3 separate regions of the Homo sapiens genome follow, and all the other regions are reported to be linked to region 1. Evidence: microRNA targets listed by miRTarBase, many of them from high-throughput screens and not tested one by one. Region 1 holds a microRNA gene; each other region holds the end of a gene's coding sequence.
Evidence for each region. Region 1 holds the annotated microRNA hsa-miR-3912-5p (AUGUCCAUAUUAUGGGUUAGU, at 2,159-2,179, shown strand). A microRNA usually pairs through its seed, bases 2 to 8, with sites in the 3' UTR of a target mRNA and lowers its output. Matches are read on the target gene's strand: a 7mer-m8 pairs with bases 2 to 8, a 7mer-A1 pairs with bases 2 to 7 and ends in A, and an 8mer does both.

Region 1 (5,219 bases):
TCTTATTGCCTTTACTAAGTACAACCTTCGTTAAGTGAGTTTATCTCTGGGCACCAGTATCCTCATCTGCAAAGTGGGGCTAGCTCCACCTACCGCAGTGAGACAGAAAAGGGGCTCAAAAAAATGAGAGCTGCCATCACAGTACATGCTGTAAGCACTGAACAAAGACCTCCAGAACCCTAGTGCTACCAGCCTCTTAACATTTCCCACTTCAACAGAGCCACAGCATCCCTGGCTCACGAGTGGCAACACGCCGGTGAGTCCCGGATGTAGCGCCCACACCCCCCTCCCTCCCCCAACCACGTGGCAACCACGTGCTCCCAGCGGTTGCGGCCTCCTCACGCCGCGCCGCGCCTCCCCACCCCCAGTAACTGGCCGAAGCACGCGAGGTAAGTCTACGTCCGGCAGCTCCAGGCTCTGAGGCCAGAATAACGCCAGGCTGTGCATCTACCCGCTCCAACAAGCAGGCCCATGCTTCCCGGTGAACCCAGCCTCCAGGACCACCAACCCGGGGCCTGGCATCAGAAGCCTATGAACCACCGCCGTTAGAAAATAAACCACGCCTGGAGCTCCGCCACGTATCCCCGGCAAAGGCCGAACTTCCAGGCGGCCGGTTCCACTTTACCTCAGGCCCCGGGCCTCGGACCGCTCACGCCCCAGACGCTTCAGGCCGCTCGTCTCCTCCCCCTTCACGCCACCGGCTCCCCCCGCGGCTCCAATCCCTCCAGGTCCAGGGCTCAGGCAGCTCTTCCCACCCGCTCAGGCCTCCCGTCGGTCTGGCGGTCTCCACCAGACCCGGTTGCAGCCGGATTCCCGCCCCTCACCCCCACCCTCACCGCCACCAGGCCCCGCTCGGCCTCGCTCCAGCTCCCCCCAGCAGTTACCGAAAAGATAGTTCTGGGGCCTCAGGGGGCTCATGTCCATGTCCATCGAATCTTCCATCGGGTGGCGGCACGCACTTAGGTAGGAGAGAAGGCGGACGGAGATAAAAGAACGCTGCTCCAGAGAACAACCGCGCAGGACGGAATCACACCAGGGAAAGGACGCAGGCTCCCCGCGCTTATATATAGACCCTGAAGATCTCGCGAGCGCTTCCCAAGTCCCGCCTCCGCGCGCGTGCTCCGAAGCCCTCCCACCCCCGTACCGTAGCCGTCCTGCGCAAGCGCTTTTCAACCCCACTCCTTTCTACCTCGCCCCCACCTCCTTCCAGGTACTCCGCGGGCTCCCACCGAGCACGCGCACTCGTACACTGGCCCCACCCCTCCGCTGCTGTCGCCTGTGCGCACGCGTGCTTTCCAGTCGTAACGCGCACTCCCCACCTCCAACCCTTCCACGTCCTCTCCCGCTCAAGCGCGCCGGCCTCCCGCCAAGAGTCTGCGCAGCCCACCCTGCAAAATGGCGTCGGCAGCCCTTAGCTGTGTAAGATATGGCGGGTTAGCCGGCTGCGAATGAGCCAGAGAGCACCTCGATTCACCTTTCCCCATCCCCTAGTGCCCTGCAAGCCTCCAAACAGGCGTAATCACTTCAGGAATTTTTTACTTGCCTGAAGGCTTCGGATCGCAGTTAATCGTTACCCCAAAGTTCAGGTGCCAGAGAGAGTGAATTGCGGCTTATTCTTTGTTAGGAAGGAAAGATGTAGTTACCGGCCAGACTTACGGAACTTTGTTTTTCAGCTCTGTCCTTCCTGAGAAAACATCTCCAAAGTCCTTATCTTTACGTAACTTGGGGGCCAAAAGGGGACTGAATCAGTCTCCAAATTAGCAAGGACATCGCCCTAAGAGAGCTCGGAGGGTGGGCCGACTCTGACTTCTTGCCGCTCTTAATCTTTAACATTCCTCCTGAAAGAAAGCGGGTGACTTGTAAGAACTACAGAAGCCTTAATTCGAATATTTGGGAGCGAGCATGGGAATTAACGTTTTAAGCTACACCTTGACAAACTCCGAGGCACCCCAGCACCCCGCGGGCATTGGGGCGTTCTGAAGACCCGTAATCTTTTTTTTTTAAGCCTCAACATATCAAACAAATTTAAGAAGTGAGGAATACAAATGATAGCCTCAGAAAGGAAGACACCCCCACCCCAAGGCATTATTTCTTACAGGAAAATTATAGAGACGATTTCAGTGTCTATCAAGAGAGGAATGAACAGTTAAATTATAACATGTCCATATTATGGGTTAGTTGTGGACACATACTAACGCATAATATGGACATGTTATAATTTAACTGTTCCTTTCTGAGAGCTCCTGTGTCACATAAAGCTTTGAGTCACTTAAATTTGTTATGCCTTTTTTTGTGTGTGTGTGGAGACAGAGTCTCGCTGTGTTGTCCAGGCTGGAGTGCAGTGGCGTGATCTCCGCTGGATGCAACCTCCGCCTCCCGGGCTCCCGAGTAGCGAGGACTACAGGTGCATGCCACCACGCCCGACTAATTTTTGTATTTTAGGAGGGATGGGGTTTCGCTGTGTTCTCCAGGCTGGGCTCAAACTCCTGACCTCGGGTGATCCGCCTGTCTCTGCCTTCCAAAGTGCTGGGATTTCAGGCGTGAGCCACCGCACCCAGCCAGCATTTTTTTTTTTTTTAAACGGGGTCTCGCTCTCTTGCCCAGGCTGCAGTGCAGTGGCAAGATCTCTGACTCACGAGTTCTGCCTCTTGAGTTCCAGCAATTCTCGTGCCTCAGCCTCCCAAGTAGCTGGGATTACAGGTGCCTGCCACCGCGTCCAGCTAATTGTTGTATATTTAGTAGAAACAGGGTTTCGCCATGTTGGCCTCCCAAAGTGCTGGGATTACAGGCGTGAGTCACCACACCCGGCCACTGTTTTATTTTTTATTTTAATTTTTTTTTTTTTTGAAACCGAAGTCCCGCTCTGTCATACAGGCTGGAGTGCAGTGTTATGATCTTGGCTCACTGTGACCTTTGCCTCCTGGGTTCAAGTGATTGTCCTGCCTCAGCCTCCCAAGTAGCTGGGATTACAGGCGCCCCCCACCACGCCTAGCTAATTTTTGTATTTTTAGTAGAGATGGGGTTTCACCATGTTGGCCAGGCTGGACTCGAACTCCTGACCTGAAGTGATCCACCCGCCTCAGCCTCTCAAAGTGCTGGACTTACATGCGTGAGCCATGGCGCCCGGCCTTATCTGAGACTTTAAAAAAAAACAATCCAGCAAAAGGGGAGGAGAAAGGAGAGTGGGAAGGTATATATGAAATAAGATTGACTACATGATGATAATTGTTAAAACTGGGTGATGGGTATATGGTTGTTCATCATAGGATTCCTTCTATTTTTGTTCTTGTTTGAAAATTTCCATGATAAAATGTGTTAAAAAATGAAGATTAAAATAAAACTTGTATTTAAAAAATGGTATATCAGTTTATCCTGTGGAATACTGTGCAACTTCTAAAAAGAATACAGTGGTCCCCTATATATTATATCCTGGAAAGATAGCTATGCCACATGAAGTAAAAAAGCAAAGTTGGAGAACAATATATATATAATACGACCCTGCTTACGTAAACAGTGAATGCCAGGTGCAATGGCTCATGCCTGTAATCCCAGCACTTTGGGAGGCTGAAGCAGGAGGGGTTGGAGTTGAAGACCAGCCTGGGCAACATAGTGAGACCCTGTTTCTACAAACAAACAGAAAAAATTAGCCGGGTGTGGTAGCACATGCCTGTAGTTCCACCTACTCAGGAGGCTGAGGTAGGTGGGAAGATCTTAAGCCTGGAAAGTCAAGGCTGCTGTGAGTCATGTTCACACCACTACTCTCTAGCCTGGGTGACAGAGTGAGAGCCTGTCTCTAAAAAAACCAACCAACCAACCAAAAAAAAGAAAAAAGAAAAGAAGCATTTATATGTACTGTATATATATTTGTAAGTGCCTGCTCTACTTACTGTGCAAATCCATTTCTTAGAATACTCTACAAAACTACTTTCAGACATTAATAATTATATAGGTACAAAGATATTTACTAAAGCTGTCTCTCCCTACTTGGAAAGCTGAGGCAGGAAAATCACTTGAACCCAGGAAATGGAGGTTGCAGTGAGCTGAGATTGAGCCAGTGCACTCCAGCCTGGGTGACAGAGTGAGACTCCATCTCAAAATAGATATATTTATTTCTAATAGTATGAATTACCCAGTTCAAATACCCCTGTCTCTTACAGTTGATTTGCTTGAATAAGGATCAAAACAAGGTCTACACATTACCTTGAGTCATGTTGTCATTTAACATGTTCCTGGCCGGGTGTGGTGACTCACGCCTGTAATCCCAGCACTTTGGGAAGCCGAGGAGGGCGCATCACCTGAGGTCGGGAGTTCAACACCAACCTGACCAACATGGAGAAATCCCGTCTCTACTAAAAATACAAAATTAGCCAGGCGTGGTGGCATGCCTGTAATCTCAGTCTGTAATCTTCTGTAAAGGAGAATGTTTCTTGATCAATTATTTGATTACCCTAAAAAATCGTTTTCGGCCAGGTGCAGTGGATCACACCTGTAATCCCAGCATTTTGGGAGGCCAAGGCAGGTGGATCACCTGAGGTCAGGAGTTTGAAAACAGTCTGACCAACATGATGAAACCCTGTTTCTACTAAATTAAAAAAAAAAAATAGCTGAGTGTGGTGGCATATGTCTGTAATTCCAGCTACTTGGGAGGCTGAGGCAGGAGAATTGCTTGAACCTGGGAGGCGGAGGTTGCATTGAGCCAAGATTGCACCATTGCCCTCCAGCCTGGGCAACAAAAGTGAAAACTCCGTCTCAAAAAATAATAATAATAATTTTCTTTCTAAGATGGGGTCTCACTCTGTCACCCAGCCTGGAGTGCAGTGGGGTGATCTCGGCTCACTTCCGCCTCCCAGGTTCAAGTGATCCTCCCATCTCAGCCTACTAAGTAGCTGGGACTGCAGGCAAAGGCCACTATGCCCAGCTAATTTTTTGTATTTTTGGTAGAGACGATTTCACCATGTTGCTCAGGCTGGTCTTGAACTCCTGAGCTCAAGCAACCCACCCACCTCAGCCTCCCCAAGTGCTGGGATTACAGGTGTGAGCCACCATGCCTGGCCAAAAATAATTTGTACCACCCTGGGCAACAGGGAGACCCCATCTCTACAAAAAATTTTAAAATTCGTTGAGTGTGGTGGCTCACACATATGGTCCCTGCTACTCAGGAAGCTGAGGTGGGAGGATCACTTGAGACAGGGAGGTCGAGGCTGTGGTAAACCGTGATC
Region 2 (5,219 bases), not on the chromosome of region 1:
TACTGGGCTGTCTTACCAAGCTCCCTTCCCTGTGATCCTGTGTGGAGCTGACAGTTCTAGGTTGGCACTATGTCCAGGAGTGGGTTTGTCCTCTTCATCTTTCTTAGAGCCAGCTTTGAAAGTTCCATGGGAGAACCTGAGTATTACTCTGAAACCCACTGCAAGGTCTGTCTGAGTCCTGCAATGACCTCTTTGCAATCTTTCCACAATCTTCCCACTCACTCCCAATCCTACTGTCACCGTCCACAGAAAGGGATTTATGGACAGCACACAAAGTTGGGCCAGCGAGAGAGAACCAATGGGCACGCTGGGAATGCACAATTTTAGAAAATCATTGCGCTTATATGTTTCATATATTTGTCAATCCCCAGCACGCCCTCAAGCTGGGAACATGTATAGCCCTGCAGTGTAGAGCACGCCAAGGCTCAGAGAAATCCAGCAACCCGCCTGAGTCCACGCCGTTCTGGGTGTGCCAGGGTGGAGGCTGGATGGAGGTATCTACTCGTGGCCCGCATTGCCTCTGCCCTGGAAAGGCCTATAGTCCGAGGCTTCTGCCCAGCTCAGCCCAACAGAAAAGAAATGTGTGACTGCCTTCAGGTAGCAGCCAGTTTGGAGGAAATGAGGACCCAGACGTCCATCTTCAAGCATTGCTTATAGAAAGAAGCTACCCAAGTGTCGGACGCTACTGAAAAGGAAAGCTTTATTTTGGGAGCTGGGGGCCACCTTCAGAATCCCAGCACCAGACATGGAGGTTGGGCTGGACACACATGTCCACTGTTCCCCTGGCACATGGGCCCTTTAGGGTCCACCCTTCCCTAGGCCTGTCCTTCCTTTTAAGTTAGGACTTTACCTACACACACGGCTTGTCATTTCCCGTCTTTATTAGAAATTACCCACAACTTCCTCCACCTCCAGGAGGCCCTAAAGAAGGCCATATATGGCCCAATCAGGCCTTTGTCCATTATCCCAACATCATAGATGGCCTGACAAAATAGCTGCTCGCTCATCAAGGCTGAGCGGACGCCCAGTCTTTGGGTGCTTCAAATATAAAAAACAGCAACAGTGGTGTCTTAAGCACAGGATTAAAGATTGAGTCATTTGACTGCGGTGTTTTTCACCTCCCCACCCGATTCTCCGGTTAGCTACTCAGAGGCAGCCTTGGAGGTCAAGAATCAAAGCTGACTTAAACCACAATGAGCACCCCCATGAGAGGCCCAGCCGGCCTCCGTGGGACAGAGATGTCATTTGAAGCACAGCTGATTCATTCGTGGGGTTAGGGGAGGTGGGTGGGGGTCTCTAGGGCCACTCGGTAAGGGCAGAGGGGCCGTTTTAGGACTGCTGGCCCCCACCTTGTACTCCCAGAAGACATAGAGTTTGGGGTTAAGTGTTGGGGGTGCCCATTGGAGGGACAGCAGGGCCCAGGTGCACTCTGCAGGACCAGGGTGGCCCAGCACAGCAGCAGCGACTGTGCCCTGGAAGCCTGAGGCCCTGGAACGCAAGGCCTAATGCCATTCCCGCTGCGTTCATTGTTCAGCTTCCCTGCCCTGCCCAGGCAGAGATGTGGCCTGAGAAAGTGTGGGGAAGAGGGGCCCAGGCTAGACAGGGAGGAGCCTCCATTGCTTTTGCCTTGGAATCCTGAGCTCAAAGCACAGGCTGGCACACAGCAGGGCTCACGAAATGCTGAGTGAGCAGAAGAGCTCTGCAGCCAGATGACAACATGGCCTCCAGGAAGGTGTGGCACCAGCCCCAGCCTCACTTTCCCCATGTGTCTGTGAGGCTCACAGGAATGGCCCACCACACAGTGCTGGAGGGAAGAGTTGGGATAACTAATGTGTGCTCTAACCCACTTTACAAATGGGAGGGAACAAAGATTAGAAAATCGCTGCCATCTGCTATGTCTGAAGCCTGCTCACTTCACTGGCACTATTCTAGTGTAACCAATATATAATCTGAGCTTAAAAATGTATATTTTGAATTAATATTAAAAAGAAAAAATTCGACTCCAATACTTTAAATTTTCTAAATTGATTCTCATGCAAAAAATATATATATTTTCTATCACCATCGAACTAGACACTGACTTCACAGCAAGAGCTACTAAAGCTGCAGGTTACCATTCAAGTCCCCCCAAGAGAAAAATAAAGTAAATCAAATGTTACAGCATTCACAGCTCCTAACTTGCATTTCCTACTTTGCTATTGTCCCTGAATGTTATAATAGCATTTTGACCTTTCACAAGTGGGGAATGCATGAATGTAGAAAGAAGGTCATTTCGCACATTTTTCTATGTGGTGCACATTCATGCACAGGTGGGTCAGAGCTGTGTGTGTCTCTCCAGGGCTCCCAGCCTCCCAGAGGACAGATGTGCAGGGCAGCTCTCAGAGCACCCAAGTCTATGCTGTCTTGGGGCAGGAGCCTGATGCAGCTGCTGCCAGCAACCCCGTGGAGCCGTCTGCTTCTGGATCACTAAGCAGAGTATCCACATGATGCCTGAAGCCAAAACCATTTCAGAAAACAGCAGTGCAGTCTACAGTAGTGTCAGACTCTCCAGAGTTTCAATCCACTGCAGAACATTCTAGAACACTGACTTCACTGTCATCTCAAATTCACTGGACCCTCAAAGGCAAAGACTCCCTAGAAGGCCATGTATGAAGGCTGGGGCCTGCCCTGACTCATCCTCACTGGTTAGCTCTAACCTGTCCTTCCATCTGGCCACACGCACACCCCAAGGCAGAAATGGGGCTCATACCATTGGCATTAGAACTTAGCAGTATTATTATCTGCCAGATTTTTCAGTCTCCTCATAACTCTCCTTACAGGATCAGATTTATCACTATCCAACTCTAAGCGTGTTTAGTGTGTCTTTCTGTTCTGCTGACCCATACCCTACAGGGTGCTGTACCCTGTGGGGTCTCACCAGAACAAGAGCCACGCTGCCAGCAAGCAAATGGATCCATCTATTCTTTAAAGGGCATCTGTGAAAATCACAGGGCAATCTCAGCCCAGATAGTATTTGAAAGGTATAAACATTGCCAGCTTTCTAACACCAAATGACTCCTCAGGAAATGACAGTATTTTACCTGGAAGAAAGGGAGTCAAGACAAAGAGTGGGGGCAGGCACATGCTCTTCCCTGCAGCAACGGAGAAACCTTGTTGTTGGGACAGCAGGCCTTTCCCCCATCCCTCATGCCAGAGGCAGTACCTCAAATGGATTCCAGTGACTCCTGGGTTTCTGGCACATGCAGCCCCAGAAGCCTCAATACCTGAGTCTTCGGGACTGAGCTCTGGGATGGGTGCCTGCTCTTGCTGTCACACAGGCTTCTCCCCTATTGTATAAGGCGGGCGGGGGACTTTACTAGCAATTACCATAAGCAGCCTGTAGTCAACCGCTGACTAGAGGGAGACACAAACCAGGAATTTGCCCCGACCACCCTTCTACAAATACCCATTTTAGCATTAGATACATGAGAACAGGGAAGCACTTGTCAATCAAAATCTTGGTTGGTGAAGCTTATTTTGTGCCATTTTGGCATGAAATGAATTCCCAAGTACTCCTCGCACAACTGGGGTCAAGGGTGGCGGGGCCCTGTGCTCAGCAGGACCCGGAGAAGCTGGAGTGCCACCTGTTCTTTAGTGAAGCTGCAGCGAGTTGTGTAGACACCCCAGGCACGTGGAGTGCAGTGCAGGGAGCACAGGAGGTGTCCCAGGGAGGCCAAGGGAGGATGCCCGCTCCCACCAGCAAGCACAGCCATGCCTCAGAACCAGTATCTCATAGCTTTCAGTGCAGGGCTAGGCATGCTCTGAGCAGCATGCCTTGCGATTCCCTCACAATTCTGTGTTTCTATTCCCCTCCAGTTGTGCTTATTAGGTAAAACTGCAGGCTACACCTTCCTAGTGGCATTTCCCGGTGGGATGGGTCAGTTGAATTAAATTTTTGCCTGGACAACTACAGTTAAACTTATTTTTTTTTTTCATTAAAAACATACAGCACAGAACATTAGTCTTACATCTTTCTTAGTCTTAAAAAATATAAATATAGAGGGATAATTTGTACAGGATGTATAGGTATGTACACCTTTAATATGCATATGAGAAATTCAGAACCAAGTTTATGAAACTTGACCTTAAAGGAAGCCTTCCTTTTGAAGCTTTTGAAGAAGGCTCTGAGCCACAGGCAGCTGTCCCAGTTCCAGCAGCCCCGATTCTAGTCCACTCCAGGTCCTCCTGACCTGGTGCGCAGTGCTGGGAGCAGTGCTGGCCAGGTCACTGCTTCCTCTCCACTGGCTGCTGGAGACACAGCTCACTCCCTGCAGAGACAATGGGCAGGCTGCTTTCTAGGTGGTGGTTGATGAGGTGGCTGATACTGTCAAAGACTCTGTCCTTTGTCCGGATCTATGAATGAAGCAAAGGAAAGGTTAAGCACATCTCACAGGCAGCAAAAAGAGAAAATGGTTTGCTCAGAATCAGCCAGACCATCTGAACTGGCCCAGAAGGAAAGGAGGGGGGGACAAGGGGCTTCCACCACTTTAGAGATGCTGTCTGCAAAGAGCAATGGCCAATCCATTTCATTGGTTGGGCTCACCTCCAAACTACCTGAAGACCTTTCAGTAACCATAAGCCCAGGCCCCTAGGACTCAGTTCTGGAATGTCCCAGCCCACTGTCCTATAGGCATGGCCTCCTCCACCTTCACCAACCAAGGTCACCTCACCTGTCTCTCCTGCTCCCTCCCTGGCCCTCTCAGGATAGCCCTGAACTGGGCTCTGCAGGCTCCCATGACCCTCCCACCTCTAGGCCTTTGCATGGACATCTCCCGGCCCAGAATTAGTGTCTTCCACCTGAGCCTGGCCCTACCTCAATGCCAGCACCTCCAGGCAGCCTTCCTTCCTCTCCAGACATCCTGGGCACCCACCAGGGGCAAGCCTCACAGTTCCCCAGAGGAGCTCCTGTTGCCCCTGCAGTCCCCCACTGGAGAGTGAGCCAGGCTGGGTCAGAGGTACAGGCTCCGTGTTCCTGGGCTTTCAATTCTACAGCCTGCCCATAAACTTTTAATGCCATGTCAGGGGAGAGGAGGTTGAACACTCTGCCCTGCTTGCTGGCCTGCACTGTGGTCCCTGGGGTCCATCAGCCGCCTCCACTCTGAGCCGGCACATTCACAGATATCACTCACACTTGAAAAAGGTGGAGTGGGGCCTGTCAGGAGCAATTTTTCGAGGAGGTC
Region 3 (5,219 bases), not on the chromosome of region 1:
GAAGTCAGCTAGAAGTGCTCCTGAAGGAGAGGTTCTGAGGCAAAAAGAACTCCAAGCAAGAGGGTCAAGCATTTAAAATGGATGAAATCGTGCAAAGAGGCTGCGAGCTGTGCATGCTCCACTGCAGGACAGGCGGTGACTCACCTGGCAGCAGCGAGTCCTGCCACAGGTCAAACATGCCACAGACTGAGAATTTCACACACACAATGGGAGCAGGGGTGGGGTGGGGAGGGGTGGGGGTTTTATGAGTGTATCTATCCAGTTTCTCAATTGCATGTTTGCAATTAACTCCTTATACATAACATGGAATTTATTAAATATTAACAGTTGTCATTGAGGGTTTATATTTCATTGCATAGAACGTTAGAGATGAGACTTGTGGCTGTGCCCCAGATGAAAGGAGGCCCCCAAGGGAAGAGCCCTGGGGAGGAATGCTGCCCAGTCCACCGGATGGATAGACAGTGCCACATTCCCCCGCACAGGGCTCTGGGCCTTTCCCTTGGCTGGCAGAAGTCCTGGCCCCTCTGCTCTGAGTACACCCACTGGTGATGGCTTAAGAACGACTGGAATTGCACAGTAAACAGAGGCGGGCTGGGAGGCCTCCCCAGACCTCGCCCTGGGGTTGTGCTCTTGGTGGCCTGCTGCCCCCTATTGCTTCTAAGTCAACATTCTCCCTGTGCTGAGCAGGGGCAGAGCAGAGAGGAAACCAAACCATCAGTCACAAGGTGGTGGTGGAGGGGGAGAGGCAAGGGAGTGAGCCAAGAGAAGAGAGAAAGGGGGAGAGAGAAACAAAAGAAAAATGTTTATGAGGTATACACGTAAATCAAACTGGAATGATTAAGGCTGTTCTTGAAATCAAAAGAAATCCCCAGGTGTACAGACGAGGAGCCGGCTGGTTGAGACAATGGCGGTGCCGCTGGGATGCTCACGATGGCTAGGGGGATGGCTTTGAGATGGTGGCAGTGTGCTAGCACGCTGCCACCCACGGGCTGGGAGAAGCCTCAGCCGGCGCCCACGCTGCTTTTCGGTGCTATGGCCTCTTATTTCAGCGATGAGACAGTGTTAGGTCCTAATGTTTGTAAAGTTCTCCCAACCCCTGGCCACATGGAGGTCTGCTCCGATGTCACCCAGAGGGCATGTGACGGGCAGGGCCCTGTGCCACAGAGGGATCCGGGCCAGCTGGAATGTGAAGGAAACGGAGCCCAGGGCCCCCAGCCCTCAGTCAAAGCCCCTCTCCAAGGCTGTGGAAAAACTTCTGGCATCTCGGAGGGAGGGCAGTGTGTGCCCAAACTCTGTGTATAACGCACGGGAAGCCTGGCCGGCCAGGCCGCAAAAAGGCGGCTGTGGGAAGTACGGCAAGACACCATGGTGGCAGGGTTTCTGGAGAGGGTTCTCCCTCCCAACAAGGGCTGTGCCTTGAAGGTGGTGCCCTGCAGAGAGCAGCATCTCTGGAAAGACAATCAAAGGTCCCCTGGCCAGTGGTCCGACTTGTCCAGCAGATGCTTCACCCAGGCAGCTGCTGTGAGAAAACATCACGTCCTCAACTGAGGCCTGCCTGCCACGTCCCACCTGGTGAGTCTTTGGGCCAAGGGTTTGCCAGATTGTAGATGCTTGAAAGAGAAAAGGAGGGAGGGAGGAAGGAAAGAAGAAAAGAAAGGATTCTGTCAAGAATTGTAGATAGCTGCTTCTCACCCTCACATTCCTCTCAGCCATCTGCCTGTGCTAGCGGCCACCTCCTCACCCACGGGGTGCCATGCCACTCAGGCTTGGGGAGATGGGTGCTTGGGCAGGTTGGAGGTCACAGAGAGGACAGCAAGAAAGAAGAATCAGGTCAGCCAGGAAGGGACACTTCTTTTAATGTAACAAAAGTTCCTTTTTTTTTTTTTTTTTTGGCTTAAGAGTGATGGAGAAGGGATTTGGTTTGAAATGGCAAACCTCTCCAAGCCCATCTCTGAAATTGCCGTAAAGAATTTCAGGAGAGGGATACTCACGGCAGCACTGTCCACTTGACCCAATCATTAGCCGAATGCTAGAACTCAAGGGAGATTTCTTTAACTATAAAGTCAGTGGTCTCAGTGGCCCAACCACACCATGTGGCAGGACGCAGAACAAAGCTGTGTCTGTGCTTCCTTTCCCTGCTCAGGAGCCATACCCTGGCCCCAAACCCAAGGTAGGTACTGTCATGAATCCAGGCCATGGGCTGTCCCTCCTTCCCCCACTTTCAGCACCACTTGTGATTTCACATCTGTTCCAGGGCAACTCCAAGGAAACATCAGCTGAGCGGGAAGCCGCAGGAAGCCCGCTGTGGGAGGGTGAAGGCAGGAAGAACGCTAAGGGCTGCACTATGGCTACTGTAATTAGAATAAATTCCAGGCTCCTTACTTGGCCTGCACAACCCACCCCAGCTGGCTCCCACCCCCTTGGACTTTACCCCTGACCACCTCTCCCCTCCACTGTGGCCCTGGCTATACTGGCCTTTGCCCTGTCCCTGGTCCCATCCCAGCATCCGATCATCCGTCAGTGCTGTTCCCTCCCCTTTTTTCATCCCACCGCAGTCGTCCTCCTCCCTCAAGCTTCCCTCACATATCTTCTGCTCTGAGCACTTTGTCTAGAGCAGACCCCACTGCTTCCATAGCTCTGCTTCTCTGGCTTTATAACACTCATCACTTTCAGAAAGTACCTTTTTAATTGAATTTTATTTTTAAACTTATTTATTCTCTATCTCCTTTAATGGATTGTCAGCTTCAGAGGGCAGGGACTTGGTTTTGTTCTCTGCCATATCCCCAGATCCTGGAAGAGTGCCTGGCACATACCTGGGGCTTGACAAACATTTGTTGAATAAATGGACGGAAGCCTGGGCCTTTCCAGGGCCCCACTGCTTTTCCAGAGAAAGGTAGCCTGTGAGGTATCACACCTAGCTCCTTCCCTCCCACAACCAGTGCTGGCCCGGGCCCAGCATCTGCCAGCCCCAGGGCTCCCTTGAAGTGACCTGCTCACTGACCGCCAGGCCCCGCCATGGATAACACATACATGCTTGTGCACCGTGAGAAGCACCCTGAAGGGGCAAGGAGGGAGAAGAGGAGGGTCCGAGGGCTATGGGATGATGGTCAGTGGTCCTGGCTGTGCACAGAGCTGTACCAACAGCCAGGTGATTCTCCTCCCACCCAGGATGATGCACTTCCTCCTCCTCCCACAGAGGCAGGGCCAAGGCCAGGGCCAGGGCCAGGGCCAGGACAGGCTCCAGGAAGTGGTGTCCCAACCTGCCTTGGCCACTGCAGCCCAGACAGGGTGAGGGCTCCCATCCTGAGGCCCTTCTGCCCTCTCCCTGAGCTGACTTAGTCTGGGGCTGAGACTCCCTTTCCTCTATGTCCCTTCCTGTCTGCCTCTCTACTCCTTCCACTCTTCTATCCTGTGGGCCACAAGCTCAGCCTGTGAAGCCAGGAGTGTTTTGACTTCATTCCCAGAGCTGCAGATGTGACTCTGTGGGGTTTGGGGACTCTAATCTCTTCCAAGTGGCTGGAGCAAAGGCACCAGCAGCAGACATCAGGGAAGAAGCATGTTCCCCTACAGGTGCCACAGACTACCAGGTCCTTCAGGATGACTTTGAACTCAGTGCCCAGCACATAGACTTCAAGTTGTGAGGTGCAGTTAGCCGTGCTGGGCTCTTCTCCAAGGGTGCCACCTGACTTGTCTGGCACCATCTCAGGCAGCTCTGTGGCCCCTGCCTCTGCGGGGTAGAGGGCTGCTGGGCCCATCGCAGCTGAAGGAAACCCAACAGGCCCTTCCCAGTTCACACTTGTCAGAACTGGCTAGCTGTCATCAGCCAGGCCTTGGCCCTTCACCCCTCCTCCGGCCCATCTCACCCTGATCCTGACACTCACTGTTATACGCAGAGTCCAGAGCTGCGCCCAGGCCTCTGACTCCAGAGATTTTTCCACAGCAATGATACCTCTCTTCATTTCTTCAAGAGCCTGTGGAGCATTTAGAGGAGGGCTGGAGAGGAGTTGCATCCCTGGAGGCCTACCTACAACCCAGTGCCAGCCCAGTGCTGTGAGAGCCCTGCAGGGGATGGCAGATGGTTTGAAAGCCAGGGCACTGGCCCTGGCTTTGGCCCCTCCTTTGCTGGGGACCCCTACTGTGTTGGCCCCATGGTAGGGGCTCTGTGCACAGTGTCCCTCCTTTTTCTCCTCCCACATTCAGAGAAGGGAACATTGCAGCTCTGGGTACTGAACCAGCCGAAGACTGGACTCCTCCCAGAGGACCCCTTCGGACTTAGAGCCCCACCCCCACCCCCAGTGCCTCGGGCCTTTCCCAGAAGAGGCAAGGTACAGGCTGCTTGTACTCACCATGCTGGGCATGGTCACCAGAATGAGGAAAATTTTTTGCCAAAAGCAGAGACAGCTGTGACAAAGAAAGAGGAGAGAGCCATCAGGAAATTGGGCCAGACCCCTCCCAGTCAGGGCCACTTGGCATAGTGAAGGCAAGCTCAGCCCAAGGGGCAGAGATTGCCCGGAGAACAACTGGGCATCAGCAGGTGGGCTCTCTGGCTGGCCTCTGCCTGGGTGACTGAGTCTGGAATCATCTCACAGACCCAGCCTGTACCAGAGTAGCCACCCACCACAGACCAGTTGCAGGCAGTGCATACCTTCCGTCAGTTTGCCAGCTTGCTCGGCTGCCCCGCCAGGGAGGATCTTGGAGAACACGCTCTCCCCATCGGCACCTGGCTGGCCGGCGGGAGCCCCTGGGGTTCCTCCAGGCCTGGCTCCAGCCTTCACACCTAGGAGGAAAGAAATCGCCATAATGAGCTATGCACGGCCTGGCTCTTTAGGGTCTAAGAGGGCAAGTACCCACGAGAGAATCTGAACACAGGTACCCTATAAGGTGGGAAGGTGAGAAGGAGGCTAGGGAAATAAAGAGAAGAAGGTAAGAACAGGAAGACAAGGGGTGGGAGAAGGCAGAAAAAAGGAGGTTGAGGAAGGGAAAGAAGAAGAAAGGGAAAAAAAGGCAGAGAAGAGCAGGAAAGGGGAAGGAAGGAGGGAGCAAGAAGCCATGGTCCCCACCCTGTGCTCACCAGTGCCTTCCTGCTTCTCTGCCCAAAGCTGCTTGGGCCCTAAAGCCCCTGTGCTGGTGACCTCATTGGCTTATTCTAACCCCAGGCTTGTTTTCTGCTGGGGAGGTCTACAGCCCCTGGGGCACCTTCTCAGGGATTAGTGAGGGCA

Region 2: the mRNA of SHC3 is a reported target of hsa-miR-3912-5p. Seed matches in the 3' UTR shown: 8mer at 955-962.
Region 3: miRTarBase lists BSN as a target of hsa-miR-3912-5p. Seed matches in the 3' UTR shown: 7mer-A1 at 1,489-1,495.

What each region holds. Positions count from the first base shown.
Region 1 is chr5:171,383,672-171,388,890 of GRCh38, reverse strand. MIR3912 (microRNA 3912) reads left to right here and starts at 2,131; the gene lies at 2,131-2,235. It overlaps NPM1 (nucleophosmin 1), which reads right to left and starts at 1,042. Exons shown (of 11, transcript NM_002520.7): 1 at 885-1,042. The coding sequence starts at 942. RefSeq lists silencers at 322-381, 702-761.
Region 2 is chr9:89,009,184-89,014,402 of GRCh38, forward strand. SHC3 (SHC adaptor protein 3) reads right to left here. Exons shown (of 12, transcript NM_016848.6): 12 at 1-4,392. The coding sequence ends at 4,264. Among named protein-coding and RNA genes, the nearest start is that of S1PR3, 20 kb to the left of the region's middle.
Region 3 is chr3:49,663,981-49,669,199 of GRCh38, reverse strand. It overlaps BSN (bassoon presynaptic cytomatrix protein), which reads right to left. Exons shown (of 12, transcript NM_003458.4): 9 at 4,646-4,777; 10 at 4,347-4,401; 11 at 3,882-3,971; 12 at 1-1,610. The coding sequence ends at 4,361. Among named protein-coding and RNA genes, the nearest start is that of APEH, 7.8 kb to the left of the region's middle. RefSeq lists an enhancer at 2,310-2,604 and a silencer at 2,310-2,604.